Homo sapiens: one gene and its partner. The protein of the gene in region 1 purifies or fractionates together with the protein of each later gene. This does not show direct contact. Each region holds a gene or a part of one and is shown in the gene's direction. Other genes may lie near its edges.

What was found.
Region 2: the proteins of TUBE1 (region 1) and TEDC1 purify together in Homo sapiens (affinity purification with mass spectrometry; 2 studies listed by BioGRID and IntAct, with this or other methods). This does not show direct contact.

The regions. Positions count from the first base shown.
Region 1 is NC_000006.12:112,084,301-112,092,859, reverse strand, and holds the start of TUBE1 (tubulin epsilon chain), read left to right. Parts: upstream 1-5,377; 5' UTR 5,378-5,425; coding exon 5,426-5,450; intron 5,451-5,553; coding exon 5,554-5,627; intron 5,628-6,251; coding exon 6,252-6,304; intron 6,305-7,116; exon of another isoform or gene 7,117-7,165; coding exon of another isoform or gene 7,166-7,185; intron 7,186-8,559.
Region 2 is NC_000014.9:105,487,129-105,494,623, forward strand, and holds the start of TEDC1 (tubulin epsilon and delta complex protein 1), read left to right. Parts: upstream 1-4,117; 5' UTR 4,118-4,247; coding exon 4,248-4,394; intron 4,395-4,493; coding exon 4,494-4,572; intron 4,573-4,978; coding exon 4,979-5,181; intron 5,182-5,450; coding exon 5,451-5,606; intron 5,607-6,706; coding exon 6,707-6,805; intron 6,806-7,495. Other genes in the region: CRIP1 (cysteine-rich protein 1), read left to right, coding at 132-171, 1,038-1,132, 1,203-1,260, 1,343-1,383. UniProt on the Homo sapiens protein: Acts as a positive regulator of ciliary hedgehog signaling. Required for centriole stability. May play a role in counteracting perturbation of actin filaments, such as after treatment with the actin depolymerizing microbial metabolite Chivosazole F.

The DNA.
Region 1 (8,559 bases):
ATAGTATACATATTTAACTTTTCATAGTTCACTTCCAAATAACATTATACCACTTCACATATACTAGAAGAACCATATAAAAGTATATTCCATTTCCCCTCTCCCACTATATATAATTTTGTTGTCATATACTTTAATTCTATCTATAGTACAAACCCCATGCATGTCGTTATACATTTTCCTTTAAGCAATTGTCTTTAAAACAAGAGATGCCTTCTATATTCATCTACATTTTTATCATTTTCAGTGCTCTTTATCCCTTTGAGTAGGTCCAGATTTTCTTACAACATAATTTTCCCTTTGCCTGAATGTTTCATTTAACAGTGCTGGTCTGTTGGTGATTAATTAATTTAGCTTTTATATCTCTTTTTTTCATATTCATTGTGGAACAATATTTTAACTGGGTATAGAATTCTCAATTAGCAGTTTTGTTTTCTTTAGGTACTTTAAAGATTTGGGTCCACTATGTTCCAGCTTGCATTGTTCCCAACAAGAAGTCTGTTGATTTTTTTATCTTTGTTCCTCTATATGTAATATGTCTTTTTTATCTGGCTGGCTTTAATATTTGCTTTTTATCACTGATATTAAGCAATTTGATTACAATGTACTTGGCATAGTTTCTTTCTGTTTCTTGTGCCTAAGGTTCACCGAGCTTCTTGGATCTGTGGGTGCATAATACTTATCACATTTGAAATTTTTTTAGGCATTGTTTCTTCAAGTATTTTTTGTTCCCTCCTCTGGCATGCCAGTTACATGTATATTACACTGTTGAAAGTTGTCCCACAGTGCACTAGTTCTCCTTTTTAAAAAAATCTTTTTGTTCTCTGTTTTATTTTGCACAGTTTCCATTGCTACATCTTTAAGTTTGCTAATCTTTTCTTTTGCCTAATGTCTAATCTGCTCTTTATTCCATCCATTTTTCACCTTAGATATTGTACTTTTCATCTCTAGAAGTCTAATTGGGATCTCTTTTTCATATTTCTTTGTCCCTTCTCAGTCTGCCTGGGCTTCCTTCTGTCCTCTTGAACATATACTGCTTTAATGTTCTTTTAATTTTATGTAATTATTATGTTTACTAATTCTTTCATTTGTGCCATTTCTTGTTCTGTTTTTAACTAATTTTTCACCTCATTATGGGACTCATCTTTGCATATCTGGCAATTTTTGACTTGGGTGCCAGGCATTGTGATTTTACATTGCTAAACAATTTTATTTTTATTCCTCTAAGTATTTTTAAGTTTTGTTCTGGGACACAGCTATTTGGAAACAGCCTGGTTCTTTGGAGGCTTGGTTTCATGCTCTCTTAAGCTAGATTACAACAGCCTTTCATCCAGGGCTAACTTTTCTTCACTACTGAGGTACCTTTCTGAGTACTCAACTCAATGTTCCAGCTATTTTAAGGTTTCTCCACTCAAGATACGGGGAATGTGAATTAGTCCTAGCCCTATGTGAACCCTAGGAATTGTTCTGCCCGCTTATTTCCAGTGGTTCTTTCCTCAGTCTTACATAGTTTCCATGAATCCATGCAAGGATCAGCACTCAGTTTAGGCTCATGAGGAACTCCTTAAAGATTTTCAGAGCTTTGTTTTTGCATACTCTCTAACAAATAAAGAAACAGATAAAGAAAATGTGGTATATATACACAATGGAATACTATTCAGCCTTAAAAAAGAAGAAAATGCCGTCATTTGTGACAACATGGATAAACCTGGAGGACATTATGCTAAGTGATATTAGCCAGCCACAGAAAGAGAAACACTCCACTTAGATGTGGAATCTAAAAAAGTCAAGCTCATAAAAGTAGAGAGTAGAATGGTGGTTACCAGAGGGTAGCAAAGCTGGAGGGTGGGACAGGGATAGAGATCAGAAAGATGTCCAACGGATACAATAAGTTTCAGTTAGGAGGAATAAGTTTTATAGATCTATTACATAGCATGGTGACTAGTTATTAATAATATATATTTCAGAACTGCTAAAAGAGCAGATTTTAAATGTTCTCATCACAAAAAAATTCTGAGTATGTGAAATGATGGATATGTTAATCAGATTGATTTAATCATTCCACAATGTAAATATTTATCAAAAAATCAACTGTACCCCATTAATATACACAATAATTAATCAATTTAAAATCAAACAAATCAAAAATGGACCAAATAATGGCAGATCATCAGCCTGAGTGCCAGAAGGGGGATAACATAAAGCATAGCCCCCAGACACCCCTCAATGGACATGTATCATGTACAAAAAAAAAATTGTTGTTTTACACCACTGAGATTTTGGGGTTGATTGTTACCACAGCACAACAAAGTTTATGCTGATGTATACAGACTTTGGTCCAGACTTAGGTACCGCTATAACAAAAATCTAAAATATAAGTCACCATACCTAAGTGGTCAAGCAGCAATTAACAAGGAAACTGTTGTGGAAAGCTAAAAGGATAGTGATCTATGTCACCCAGGAACAAACCTATTGGGAAAAATCTTTGGAAAACTCTGTGATAACCTAGAAGGCATGTGATTTAACTAATGAATTTAAATGTTGGGAGAAGAGGCTGGAAAACAATAACATGTCAGTTGCTACTGTTTGTCAAGTTATATGAGAAAGAGATGAGCTCAGAAATGGCGGTGTGCAAGCAAGAATAAAAACAGACCACCCACAACTCTGAATTATATTTTAATGACAACTTACAAAAGCTACAGAATAATTTTCTTCTAAAACATTTTATTCCCCTTCAGAACTTTGCAGCATGTTTTCAATGCCTTCCAGTACTGAATGTGCTATATAGATGAGTCTAAAGTACTCTAATTAATTGTTTTTTCTTCATCCCACTCCCCCGTTCATTTCATGCCTAGGTACCTAAAAAATTCTCTCTTTATTCTGAAAAGTTGAATGCCTTAATGAGGCTGCATGTCTTGGTGTTGATTTTTCTATAAATTGTCCTATAGAACATAGTGTGTATCCTTTTAATCTATGTATTTTTCTTCCTTTTTTTTTATCAAGTACATTTTTTCCTCCATTTGCTGTGGGCACATGTTAATCTTATGTTGAGCCATCTTTGTCTCCTTCATACATATTATTTTTAATAACTTTCATATCTCTGGGTTTTGCCTAGTATTGTTATTATTTTAAGACTTTCCTCTACATTATAATTTGATGTGCATCTCTCTAGTCTGCTTCTTAAATGCTTTTAAAAATTATTTCTTTAAGTCCTTTAAGGTGGATGTTGTTGTCTTCAGTTAATTTCCTTAGTTCTTTTATCTCCATTTTATTTCATTTATTCATCAAATATTTATTTACTATCTACTATATGCAAGGTACTATCCCTAGTAGTGGATAAAACAACAAGACTCAGCCCTCATAGAGCTTGAGTCTTATTATTTTAGTATCTTGTCTTTAAGTTCCTGTTTTATTGCATTCATATTCTTAAGTTCTTCTTCAGCACAAAGTAGATATGATGAATTTTCTTTTCTCCCCTCTTAGGCTAGGTTTTACCCCAAGGTCTTGTACTTTATCCATCTTTTACATCGTTCCTTCCTTCCTCTCCCCCTTCCCTCCCTCTCTCCCTTCCATCCTTGTCTTCCTTCCTTCAATTTTAGGAGTCCATAGGATTCCCAATAATTTTTTTCTTTTTCATTTTCAGCATGTGGAATTCTGTTCACTCTATTTGCTCTGTATGTTGGTCAGCTATCACTACAATAAAACTGCACCCCAAAATTTCAGTAATTTCAACCAAAAACATTTCTCTTGCTTATAATATTCTGAATAGCCCGCTGCGGTTCAACCGATCTCAACTTGGCTCACCCGGGTTTGCATATACGGAAGTTTTGGAGTGGCTGGCATGTGAGGCTCTACCTTGCTTGGCTCTTAAGCAGAACTGTCTCTCAGTCTGATTCTCTAGAGACTGAAGTTATTAATAAGATGTGTTAGGACTTTTCTTTCCTGTGTGGGGAATAATGACTGGGACTGCATGAAGGGTAGGGCTCTGCAAAGGCCAGTGTATCATCTCACCTAGCACTGATAACACACTGATACAGACCTATTCACATCACTGCCTACAAACTGGACCAAGACTTGCAAATTTTGGAAGCCCCAGACGTTGGGACTTTAGCATCAAGACCTAAAATGCCCAACTTTACCTCTACCACTGACCCCATACTCAGTAAGAAGTTAAGAATAAATCCAGCCTACAAAAATTTACTGACCGAAAGCTGCCTATTACCAAAAGATATAAAATCCATTGCAACTTTAAACCTACCGGCTACCAGAGAAATTTAATAGTAACTACTACGTGTCTTGGTGGGACAATAAAGTGTTCTAATCCATTGAATATTACAGTTCATATTAGCACATATTCATAGCACATACCATATAACTTTTTATTAAACAAAGAAGACTTCTTAGAGTTTCGTAGTTCTTCAGAATTTTTGTGGAAAATATTAATTTCATTAAAGAAGTACTTGAGTTCTTAATTAAAATCTGGTCTAATTTGATCAATAGAAGTTTACATATTTTAATGTTTGACAATTTTAAGTAGTTGGTAATTGTCATAATGCCTAACTTTTTAATCTTCTCCTGCCTATCCCATCTAAATACCCATCTAAATGCCTAGTGTTAATCTCGTGTCTTCTATCAGACTTCTACATACTCATCTACATCCTCAACCACTGAATCCTATTGCACTTATAGTCAACGCCACACAATTCTTTAAGTATTTCGCGTGTATGTCTTCAATTAGATTGTAAGCTTCTTGGAACTGGATCTATGCCTTAATTTCTTTCTAATCTTCCCAGCGAGCCTACAAGTTAATTTGGGGAGTATACAGCGTTCAACAAATACTGGTTGGGTCTGTGACCTTAGCTTTGCCATTTTTGTCAAAGCGTATAACCATCTAGTTTCAATTGTGCCCTGACATGACTATTTCTCTGGGGTTTCTCTTTGCTCAACGCCATTGTTCATTTTCTATTAGAATAAAGGGCTTGTTGAACAGAGATGCCAACGCAGCGTCCCGTGGAATCTGAATAAACGGACTGATCCACCGCCCCGGGTGTTGAGGCTGTGAACAAAAATTAAACCTCTGATAGCCCACGAACAGCTTAACGACACATATTTTAAAATACCACTCCAAAGCCTAGTTACCTGCCAGTTACCCCGGCCTCCGGAGCTGCCGATGCTCGAAGATGTTGACAAGGCAGCTAGGATATACAGTCCAGAAGCCCAGTCGCTACGGTAACGGTGACACGCAAGTGCACTTGCGCGGCCTTCTGACGGAAAACCTTAGCCTGAACCTACAGACGTGCTTAGCGACGGCAGAGGCTTGCGGCAGTAGCGTGACTTACGGCAGCTCTCTAGCAGAGCGCCGTTGCTGGGGGAATGCAGAAGCGGCCGCGGGCTAGCAAGCTCCCGGAGCCGGCGGCGCACCACCATGACCCAGTCGGTGGTCGTACAGGGTAAGCTACGCCGGGCGGGTAGAGACCTGGTCGCCGCGGAATCCAGCGGCCATGTTTCCTGCTTAATGTCCTATTCTCTTTCCTTCCTCTCCTCCGGTCGCAGTCGGCCAGTGCGGAAACCAGATCGGCTGCTGCTTCTGGGACCTGGCACTAAGGGAGCACGCCGCGGTCAACCAGGTACCCGCCCGCCGCCGCGAGCCCCCTCGCCTGTCAGCTAGGTCTTCCAGCCCATACGCAGGAAATAATCGACTTGAGCTTTCATCTGACCCGTTTAAGATGCATGGGATCTTCCCAGTAAAGAACGTACTGGTTTTTAAACATGTTGCGTCAGACACACACTAAACTAAAAGAACACTGGCCAGCGACCTTAGTCTTAACGTTTTTCCTGATTCTCAGGGTCTCCTCTTTATTGGTGTTCGTGTGCAGAACAGTGAGATTTGTATATGGGAAAGTACTTTGTAAAATAGATAACACGTGTGGTTATTGTATTCCTTAATTTAACCAGTCAGCTTTTAAAAAGATTACGAAGAATCCAGAGAACGCTCATTTGATGGACCTGTCCTACAGTCCTATGGGTGAAATCCTTTCTTTAGCACCCCCTGCTGAACTTTTTATCTGTAGATCTGGCATTTACTCTTCTAAGGAGATTGGGAAGAGTCAGGCTCCGCATTTTGTGATACTTGGTTTTTCTTATCAGAGTCTCATCCTAGCCATTACAGTATTATGTAATTAAAATTGAAAGAACTTGATTTGGGCGAGAAGCAAAACCTAAATGCTATTAACATATGTTTTTCTTTTTAGAAAGGAATTTATGATGAGGCAATAAGCAGCTTCTTTAGAAATGTGGACACCAGGTAAGATGGGATTAAAGTCTGTCACAGTGTGATACTTTAAGTTTCAGTAGCTTGGGAGAGAATTCTTCAAAGGACAATAAAAATAGCCAGCTGCGAAGTTGTGTTTTTTTGTTTCATTATTGAAAGCATATTTATTCTATTAGATTATTAATATTCTTATATCATTTTCCCGAAGAAGACAACAGATTTCCCTTTAGTGTGACTTCTTTTAACTTAACCTTGAAATAAGTTTCATTAAAAGAAAGCTGAAATTTTCCCAGAGGGCATCTTGTTAATGCATCCTGTAATAACTAACTTTTGAAAGAAAAATATATTGTTTACATATATGCTGTAAGTATAAAAATATACTTAAAAAGGTGACAAGCAGTTGTTGGATTGTTTTTGTTTATTTAATAAAGAGTATATGTAAGTACCATATATGTTTTATCTGGAAGAGTAATTTAAGTTGCCGTTTAGGATATCTCCATAAGCTTTTAATATTAAATCATTAAGTTCATGCATTTTCAAAATACTTCATAAAACTAACTGTCCTGTGCTTAAACTGAAAAATACATACTTCGTGTCAGGCTTTAATCCAATAGGAACATCAGTTCTAGTTTAAAATAGTTGGCTGGGTGTGTGAGCAGTTATCTTCAGAGAAAGCTGATTAGTCCGCGCTTCCTGGGTGAATTCCAGAGTCTATCTAGGGCACTGGCTTGCAAACTCAGAAGTGTCATTGGCATCTCGAGATGGGTTCAGTGCTCTCCAGTACAGCCAGGTTAACCAAAGACCAAATTCTCATTTTCATAGGCACATTACTTTATCTTTTGTAGGAAATCTAACTGAAAAGCTGTGTAATAATCTGAAGGTTGCTTGGTGACCATGGAATCAGACCAAAGGAAGTTAGTTACTTTAATGGCTGGTATCATTTATATTTATTTTATGGAGATATCTGTCATATAGACTATAGATTCCCTCTTATTTGTAGCCCACAATATCCTCACCTCTAAATTCTCTTAGGAGACTCAAATTTGCTTCTGTCATACTTCCTTTCCGGCGCTTCTCTTGCTAAGTTCCTACACCCACCTCTTTACTTCTTGTTACCCAACGCTTACATTGAGTATTACATAGTTGAGACTCAGCCTGGGAGCTTTTCTTTCTTCATAAGGTGACTCTTCATAACTACACTCTCATCTACTCTGTGTGTTTTATACTTTAACCTGAGAGCACTATTATTTTCCCGGTAAGTTTGGCAAACAGGGTTGTGGCATCTTGCACTTCTTTCTGTGTACTATCAACACATGCAGCATCTGTTCCACAGCTTAGTACAAAAAATATTTTTCAAAGTAAAACCATATCTTTGTGTACTATTCTTATCAAATTTTTATACCTTTTGAGTAGCATGATAGGAATTTACCTACAGCATGGGTTGGCATGCATATATTTTCTGTAAAGGACCAGGCAGTAAATATTTTAGGTTTTGTGAACCATAAAGTCTTTTGCACCACTACTTGATCTGTAGCATGATTGTGGGCATAGGTAATACATAAAGGAATGGGTGTGTCCACATTTGAATAAAATTTTATTTAGGAAAACAGGCAGCTAGTTGAATTTGGCCTGATGATTGGCTACCCTTCATATATTCCGTCTTGTGAACTGTCTTTATTGACCCATATACTGCGTTAGATTTTAGTACTTTGGCAACTTATTTCCAACGTGAAATTCTGAGAACAACCTTAGATACTCAATGGTAAATACCAGTTATATCAGTTGATGGGTGTTAACTGCAATAGAAAACTACATTAATGGTGGCTGAGGCAGTAAAGGTATTCATTTATCTCACAAATCTGCAAATCAGATGTTCTAGGTTTAAAGGAATGCCTCAAAGATCTAATACTATATATGTTCCACTGTCCATAAGTGTGTTGGCTTTTTGTACTTGTATTATTACTTCATGACTATAAAATGGCAGTCTTCTCCAGGAATCACATCCATATTCAAGTTTGAGGCAGGAAAAAGAAAGAAGATAGGCACCAACTGCATCTGGTCCTTCTTTAAAAGCTTCCCAGAATACTTCCCCTTTATCTCATTGGCTAGAACTGGATTACATGGCCAGCCCTAACTACAAAGAAAGCCAGGAAACTAAGTACCTCACTTTTTCAGCCTAATGGGAGGTAAGCAAGGAAGAAAGAGATTAGGAATAGCTGTTGTGTCTGCCTTACCTGGCCTATAAGCAGTCTTATTATATAAATGGAAGTTAACTTTATCACCTGATA
Region 2 (7,495 bases), on another chromosome or scaffold:
AGGGGCGGGGTCTCCAAGGGGCGGGGTCCCGGGGTCCCTGAAAGGCGCGGACCAGGCCGGATCCACCCAGTCTCGCGCCTGCAGCCCGTGCCGCCCCAGCCGCTGCCGCCTGCACCGGACCCGGAGCCGTCATGCCCAAGTGTCCCAAGTGCAACAAGGAGGTGTACTTCGGTGAGCGCGCCCACACCGGCCCCGCGAGGAGGCGCCGCCGACGGGGCGACGAGGCTGGGGACCGCTCAGGAGGACCGGGGGCGCTGGGTCCCTGGGGCGGCGCCCCAGCCTGAAAACGCCTCAGCCTGGCCCGCCGCCTGCCCCGGGATGAGGGTGGAGGCCCCTGCGTCCGAGGGCCCTGGCGATCTCTGCCTGCTAGTGGTCTTGCTGTGCTCGGCGGGCTACCTCTGGCTCTGAGCCTCCCCGTCTCTGGGTCCTACGGTCTCTGCCGTTTCCTCTCAGGCGCGCCCTGAGTGGGGGACCCGCAGGGCTGGAAGGAACGCGGGGCTGGGGCCGCGCCCCCCAGCGCTAAGTGGAAACAGACGCGGAAACCGACGCCCGGGGCGCGATCCCGGGCGCCCGCCTCCCTGCCCCGCGCCCGCGCGCCCCGAGGGGAGGGAGGAAGTGGGAAGTCACCCCTGTCCCCGCCGAGAAGGGCTGTCGCAGGCTCCACCCTTGCCACCGCAGAGGCCCGGGGCTGAAAGCAGGCAGCCAGGCCCAGGCCCTGCTGACCTAAGCCGCGACCCCTGACCCTCGGCCTCGCCCTCTAGCCCCACCCAGCCTTCAGGAGCAAGATTCCCGGCCGCACCCGAAAGTGCCCCGGGGACCAGCGACCCCGCGCTTTGTTTAGTTGTATTGGCTCTGGGGATTGGAGATGTTCCCCTCATGGAGGGTGCTGAGACCTTAGGGTGGGCTGCCAGGCTGGGCGGATGCGGGCTAAGTGCACAGGGCCTTGGGCAGAGCTGGCTGCAAGAGGCGGGTACGCCAGTGGTGGGTAGGCGCCGCGTCCTGCAGCGTCTCACCGGGGCCTGTCTGTGCCTCTGCAGCCGAGAGGGTGACCTCTCTGGGCAAGGACTGGCATCGGCCCTGCCTGAAGTGCGAGAAATGTGGGAAGACGCTGACCTCTGGGGGCCACGCTGAGGTAGGTGGGACCCACCCTGGTGGCAGGGGCCAGGGGTGATGGCACCCCCTCACGGCCCTTCTCTTTGCAGCACGAAGGCAAACCCTACTGCAACCACCCCTGCTACGCAGCCATGTTTGGGCCTAAAGGTATGCTCCCGTCATCCCCACCCCACCCCACCCCACAGCCTCCTCCACCCCAGCCTGTTGACTTTTTCCACCTTCTCTGCAGGCTTTGGGCGGGGCGGAGCCGAGAGCCACACTTTCAAGTAAACCAGGTAGGTAGGACCCCACCCCCTATCCTGCCTCCTGGTTCCACCCTCGGGATGGGGATGCCCCCTCCCAGGGAGGCCTGACCACTCGTGGGCCCCAAAGGAGGCCGTGGACGCTGCACTCACGTCTGTGCCTGTCTCTCTCTGCACAGGTGGTGGAGACCCCATCCTTGGCTGCTTGCAGGGCCACTGTCCAGGCAAATGCCAGGCCTTGTCCCCAGATGCCCAGGGCTCCCTTGTTGCCCCTAATGCTCTCAGTAAACCTGAACACTTGGAAAACCTGTGTGTGTACATGCGCGTGTGTGCTGGGGAGTGCCAAGGGAGCTGCAGTGGGGTCCTGGCAGCAGGCTCTGCCACCGGCGCCTGCTCTTCTGCTGCCCATTGCCCTCCCCAGGGGGCCGTTCCAGGGTCTCATAGGCGAGGGCTCCCTGTGCAGGGTGAGTCCAGGCCACCCTAGACAGCCCGCACCCAGCCCTGGCACTCTGAGTCCGCCTCGACAACTCCCAGATCCTCAGAAGTGCCTCTGAGCCCTCCTGGCCTTCTGGGAGTGGGGAAGGGGGGCTTTGCAGGCCACCAGCCAAAGGCTCAGCAGGCCGAGAGGCCTGGGGGCGGGCGAGGCTGGCCTCGGGTCAGAGGGTGAATCAGCTCATGCTGGCTCCCTTTCTGAGAGGCTCTGGGGGAGTTATGGGAACTCCTGGCCTTCCTCCTTTCCACCCCCCAACCCTGTCCTCATTCCCCACCCCTCCAGGCCAGGCCCAGCTTCTGCAAGGGCCTGATGAGGCTGCTCTGCCCCTGACCCAGGCACCACTGCCCCATGTGCGTCCTCATCTGCCATCTACCCTGTGCCCAGGGACTTACCCAGTGGCCCGGCGTCCAGTGGGGAACTTGAGTACCGGCCGTGCACAGGGGCTGGGGGGCCTTCTGGAAACTCCCTTGTCAACTCAGCCAGCCGCTGCTGACTGGCCACCTTCAGAGACCCTCTTCCCCACACTGGCTACTTAGATACCGGCCTTGGCAGAAGGCCACCCCTCCGGACACCCACTGGTTTAAAAGAGCCCAGGGGTCTGGCCCTGCCTTAGGGCTGTGGTGGGTGTGCTGCAGGCTCAGCTCGACAGGTGCTGTGGGGGCAGTCTAGGGTGGCCCGCAGGGTGGGGTGTGTGGGGGTGATTGGGGGATTCCTGGAATTCCAAGAGCTGGGAGCCACAGCACTTTTGATGGGATGGGGGCAGGGGGTGCTGAGGTGAGGCTGGTTTCTGGCTGGACGGTGGTGGGTGGAGCTGAGGGAACTGAGATCTTTGAGACAGCGACACCTGGTGCAGAGAAAAATCCGCAAGCTCGGGGGTTGGGAGAGCGCTGAACAAGGCCGCAGAGCTGCTCCGCCATCTCCCCCACGCCTCCTGCCAAGTTCTGTGGCGCCGCGGTTCCCCACCTCCTGCTCCCATCCCCCTGGCTCCCGCCGCCCTGTAGCTCGGCAGGTGCAGTAGGCGCTCCGAGGAGGAGGCCCCTTAGCTTCAAGAAACCCGCGTGGGCGGGGTGAGGAGCGCAGTCCTCCTACTGGCGCCGTGAAGGAGATCGCGATGCGCCGGAGGGAAGGAGGCTGCGGGCGGGGAAGGACGGAGGGCGTGCGGGGAGGGAGAGGAGGGGCTTGCTGGGGGGGGGGCCCCGAGGCGGGGCCGGGAGGGCCGCCTGGAAGAGGAGGTCGGGGGCGAAGGAGGCCGAGAAGAAAGGTGGGGCCGGGACCCCTCGGGCTGCGCCTCTCGTGGGCGTGTCCAGCCAGGGCTGGGGGTCCAGGGAGGACTGAGTTTCCCTCTCCCGCCGTCCTCGCAGCCCCGGGAGGTGCAGGGGCATCGCGGGAACAGCCCCGGTGACACGCTGCCCGGGGTCTTCACGAATGCCCGGAGGCGCCGCTGGCCAGAAGCCAGCCCGACCTTCCATCCCCGCAGACAGCCCCACGTTCCTCCCGGCCCGCGTCTTTCGGGGCCGCCCGTGCAGGCGGGCCCGGCTCAGCGGCGCCCGGGCAGCAGCTGCTTCCATGCGCCGGCTTCCTCCGGGGCTGCTCCGTGGCGGCGGCAGAGGGAAGCGCTGCCGCGGGCGGGCGAGGATCGGGAGCGCCTGAGGAGGCTGCCGCGGGCTCCGGCTGCGCGTTCGGGGCGGGGGAGCTGCCCGGGACTTCGCGCCAGGGGCCAGGGGCCGGCCGCGCTGGGGTCTGCGCTGTGCGGCGCGGCGGGCTCTGGGCGCCTCCTGGCGGCCCAGCCTGGAAGGCGGCGCGATGGGGCGAGGCTCGTCCGCTCCGACTGCGTAAGCGGCCCCACAGGGCGCCTTCCGGAGTCTGCGCGCTCCCGCCCGGCGGTTGCTAGGTTGCCAAGGGGCGTGAGGCGCTGATGGGTGGGGTCTGAGCGAGGCGGGGTGTCGGGTGTCGTGACGATTGAGCCTGCAAGGGCGGACTCTGCGGTGTTCTCCATATCAACAGCCCTGCCAGGAGCCCGGAAGTGGGTCCGCACGAGACAGAATAGACTACACTCAAACTCCAGGGGAACCGTTCATTGGGCTTGGACACGAAGGCGGGACCCTGCCGACGCAGTGATTGGATGCATGTCCGGCCAGCGCGGTGATTGGGTACAGGTCTCGGGAGCGCGGTGATTGGGTACAGGTCTCGGCCAGCGCGGTGATTGGGCGCAGGTCCCAGCCGGCGCGGTGATTGGGCGCTGGACCCGGCCCGTGCCATGATTGGGCTCAGGTTCCAGCCGGAGCGGTAACTGGGCGCAGGTCCCAGCCGCCGCACTAAACCCGGCCCGTGCGGTGATTGGACGCAGGCCCCGGGCCGCGGCGGAGGCGGGCGATCCGAAAGAGGCTGGTGCTGGCTGCATGGGGAGGCGGCGGCAGCGGGTGGACCCCGCGGCTGGGGCCCGGGCCGGGGCCCTGCCTGAGGCCATCGCCGCGTTGAGTCGGTCGCTGCCCTCGGGACCCAGCCCCGAGATCTTCCGCCGCGCCAAGTTCGACCGTCCGGAGGCGGTGACGCTCTCGCGGAGGGCAGGCGGGCCGGGTGGGGTCCCGGGCCCTCGCAGGGAGTTGGGCCGGCTCCGCTGACCGCCCGCTTTTTATTTTCCGCAGACCTCCGCGCTCTGGCAGCTCCTCTTCCGTGTGCTCTCGCCACTCCCTGCGGGCAACGCCTTGGCATCGCTCGCCCTGGGTAAGCCCCGCTCCTGGCCCCGCCCACCCGGTAGCACTGGCCCCGCCTACTCCTGTAAAGCCCCGCCTTCCCCAGTAAGCCCCGCCCCGGCAGGCTCTAGCCCCCACCCAACACTGACCCCGCTTGCTCCTCAAAACTCCGCCTTCCCCGGTAAGCCACGCCCCCTGATGGGCCCTAGCTCCACCCCCTTGGGTAGCACTGGCTTCTGCTCCTACAAAGCCCTGGGGACGTCCCTGTTGGCCCCTGGTCTCCTCATCCTGGTCTGAGTTCTAGCTCTCCCACTATCATCTCTTCTGAACTAGGCCTTGAGCTTCTGCTCAAGTGACCTGTGGGGGTCTCTGGAGGGATCCAGGTGGTGTCACCTCCAGGTGGGTGGTCCCCCTAAGGTGGTGGTCTTCTGTCCTAGAGGTCCAAGCCCGCTTGGTGAAGTCAGCACTATGCTCCCAGGGCTACCCGAGGCTGGCACTGGCACAACTACCTGAGGATGGCTCGCAGGGCAGTCGGGAGCTGCTGCTGGCTCTGTCCTGGCTCTTGGCCCGAGGACCTGTGCCCGAGCAGATGCTGGCCCAGGCCCGAGTGCCTCTGGGTGACGAGATGACTGTGTGCCAGGTGCGTGTGGGTGAGGGTGAGCTGAGCCAGCCCTGGTCTCAACTCCTGGGGCCAGAGCAAGGGCAGGCCTGGGTCAGCCCCCTCTGTCTGCTTTGCTCCTCAGGGCAGTCCCATGAAGGGTTACCCAGCTGCCCAGCTGAAAGCACGGAGGCTCCCTGTGCAGGGAGCACCCGTTGTTTTTGGCTGTGCCTCCACTACCGTCTCCATCCTGGCCTTTTCTGGGGGGCAGGGTGGGGTGGGAGCAGGGCCTGACCCTTGCCCCTCTCCAGTGTGAGGCCCTGGCCAGCCCTGGCCCACCTGCACCCCACATGGAAGCAGAGGGTCCTGTGGATGTCCGCCATGTGCAGTGGCTGATGGGAAAGCTGCGGTTCCGGTGGCGCCAGCTGGTGTCCAGTCAGCAGGAGCAGTGCGCCCTCCTGAGCAAGGTAGAGCTGGCACAGGGCTTCCACTCAGGGGCTGTGTCCCGTGCTGCAGGCCGCCAGCTGCCAGTCCCTGCAGCCCGTCCCGTGAGGCCTGGCACAGGCTTTTGGCTGGATGTGGGCCTTCCTGCCCTGGCTTACCCAAAGCCTGAGCCCGTGGTTCCCGGTGGTCCTTGTAGGGGGCAGGGCTGGGCAGGGAGCCCAGTGGGGTGGGCAATGGTGGGCAGAAACGGGTGTCAGAGAGCTCACAGAATTTGCCTTTCTGTTCCCAAAAGTTACCAGTGGACTTCCAGCTCTGTGAACAGTGGGATGGGGTCTGTGCCATGAAAGCCACTCCCTCCTGGGCACTGGAGGGGGAGGAAGACAGCTCCTGTTGCCACCACATCCTGGTGGGGGCTGACTTGCGGGGTGGACAGCTCCTGTGGGGTCCTGAAGGTGGCAGGGGCTGGCTCAGGGGCACAGGTACCCAGTGGTGTGTCCACTGTGAGGCCAGCGCTGACAGGTGGGTCTGTGGCAGCGGCGGGCTCCCACCAGCGCGGGACTCCTTGGAGACCCCCCCATCCCACCCTTGCAGAGGGTCTGTTGCTCAGCTGGCCTTTCCAGGGACCTCTCACCCCGTCGGGCCTGGCCTTGGCACCAGCTGCTCCGCTTACTTATGTGCCTACCTGTGACCCTCTGTGCCACCTTCCAGCCTCCCTTTTTTGGGGAGCCTTCCCCATTTCCCTAGATCCAAGCAGTCGTTCATGTCCCCACTGTGAGCCTGGCTGAACTGCTGTGCCTGTCCAGAGGCTGTTCCTCCCCCGATGCTGCTGGGGAAGCCAGGGCACCCCACTCCAATCTTGCTGCTGCTTGGAAGCTGGGCGGGGTGGGGAGGCCATCAGTGAAATTGCCTGGCGCCCCCTTGCAGGAGACCCCAGCGGTGCTGATGGTTGTTCTGCACCCAGCCCAGCCCCGCCAACCTCAGGCAAGGAGTGGCTTTCTCTGAGCCCTCTTTCCTCATCTGGGAGGTGGGCTCTGATGGCCGACCTCCCTGGACTCATGGAGACTCAGCGTTGGGGGAGGTGCTTGACTGCCACTCAGCCTGGGGTCTGCACTACCTGTTTTAGATCCACCTGTACACACGCGGCTGCCACAGCGACCAGAGCCTTAGCCATCTGTCTGTCACTGAAGCAGAGATGCTCAGGGACCCAGAGGGAGGCCAGCAGGTGAGGGCGGGCAAGCTGCTGCGGGGGGGTGGGGGTGGGCTGGGGGGCACAGCAGGGGGACTGCCCAGGGTGGGAGGGGCCTGGGGGCGGGGCAGCTCTTGGGCCTCCAGCGGTGGGTGTCTCTGCATGTCTGCCACTGATCATTGCCAGCCTGGGTGACAGACAGCTTCTCTGGGCCTCTCCTAGCCTCATGGGCCACTCACCCTTCCCTTCCACAAATCAAGACGTGGCACGGGTGGGGGCCCAGGACGCAGGAGCCTGGGCTGGGCAGGCAGCTGGCTAAGGGCAGGCTGTTGGAATAAAGGAACACAGATCTCAGGTGTGAGCTGGTGGTGTTGGCATCTCAAGCAGGTCTCACTTGGTGTGTCAGGGGGCACCTAGGGGTGTGGGGGGCCAGCCCACACTGGGTGAAGGGTTGGGCACAGGGCTGACTGTGGGAGGGGACAACTGCCCTTCAGAACCCAAGGCCAGGCCCACATGGGGTGTGCTGGACCGAGCCTCCCAAGCTGGAGCCAGCTCCATAGGCCCTGGAGACTTGCAGTCCCGTTCTGCTTGCTACACCCGGACCACCCGGGGGCACGGCGCTTTCTAGGCAGGCCTGCCCCCGGCGACCGGGGCTCTGTGGTCCCAGGCAGATCCTGAGCCCTGGATAGCATAGACCTGGAGGAAAACCTGCCTCTGAGCCCCAGG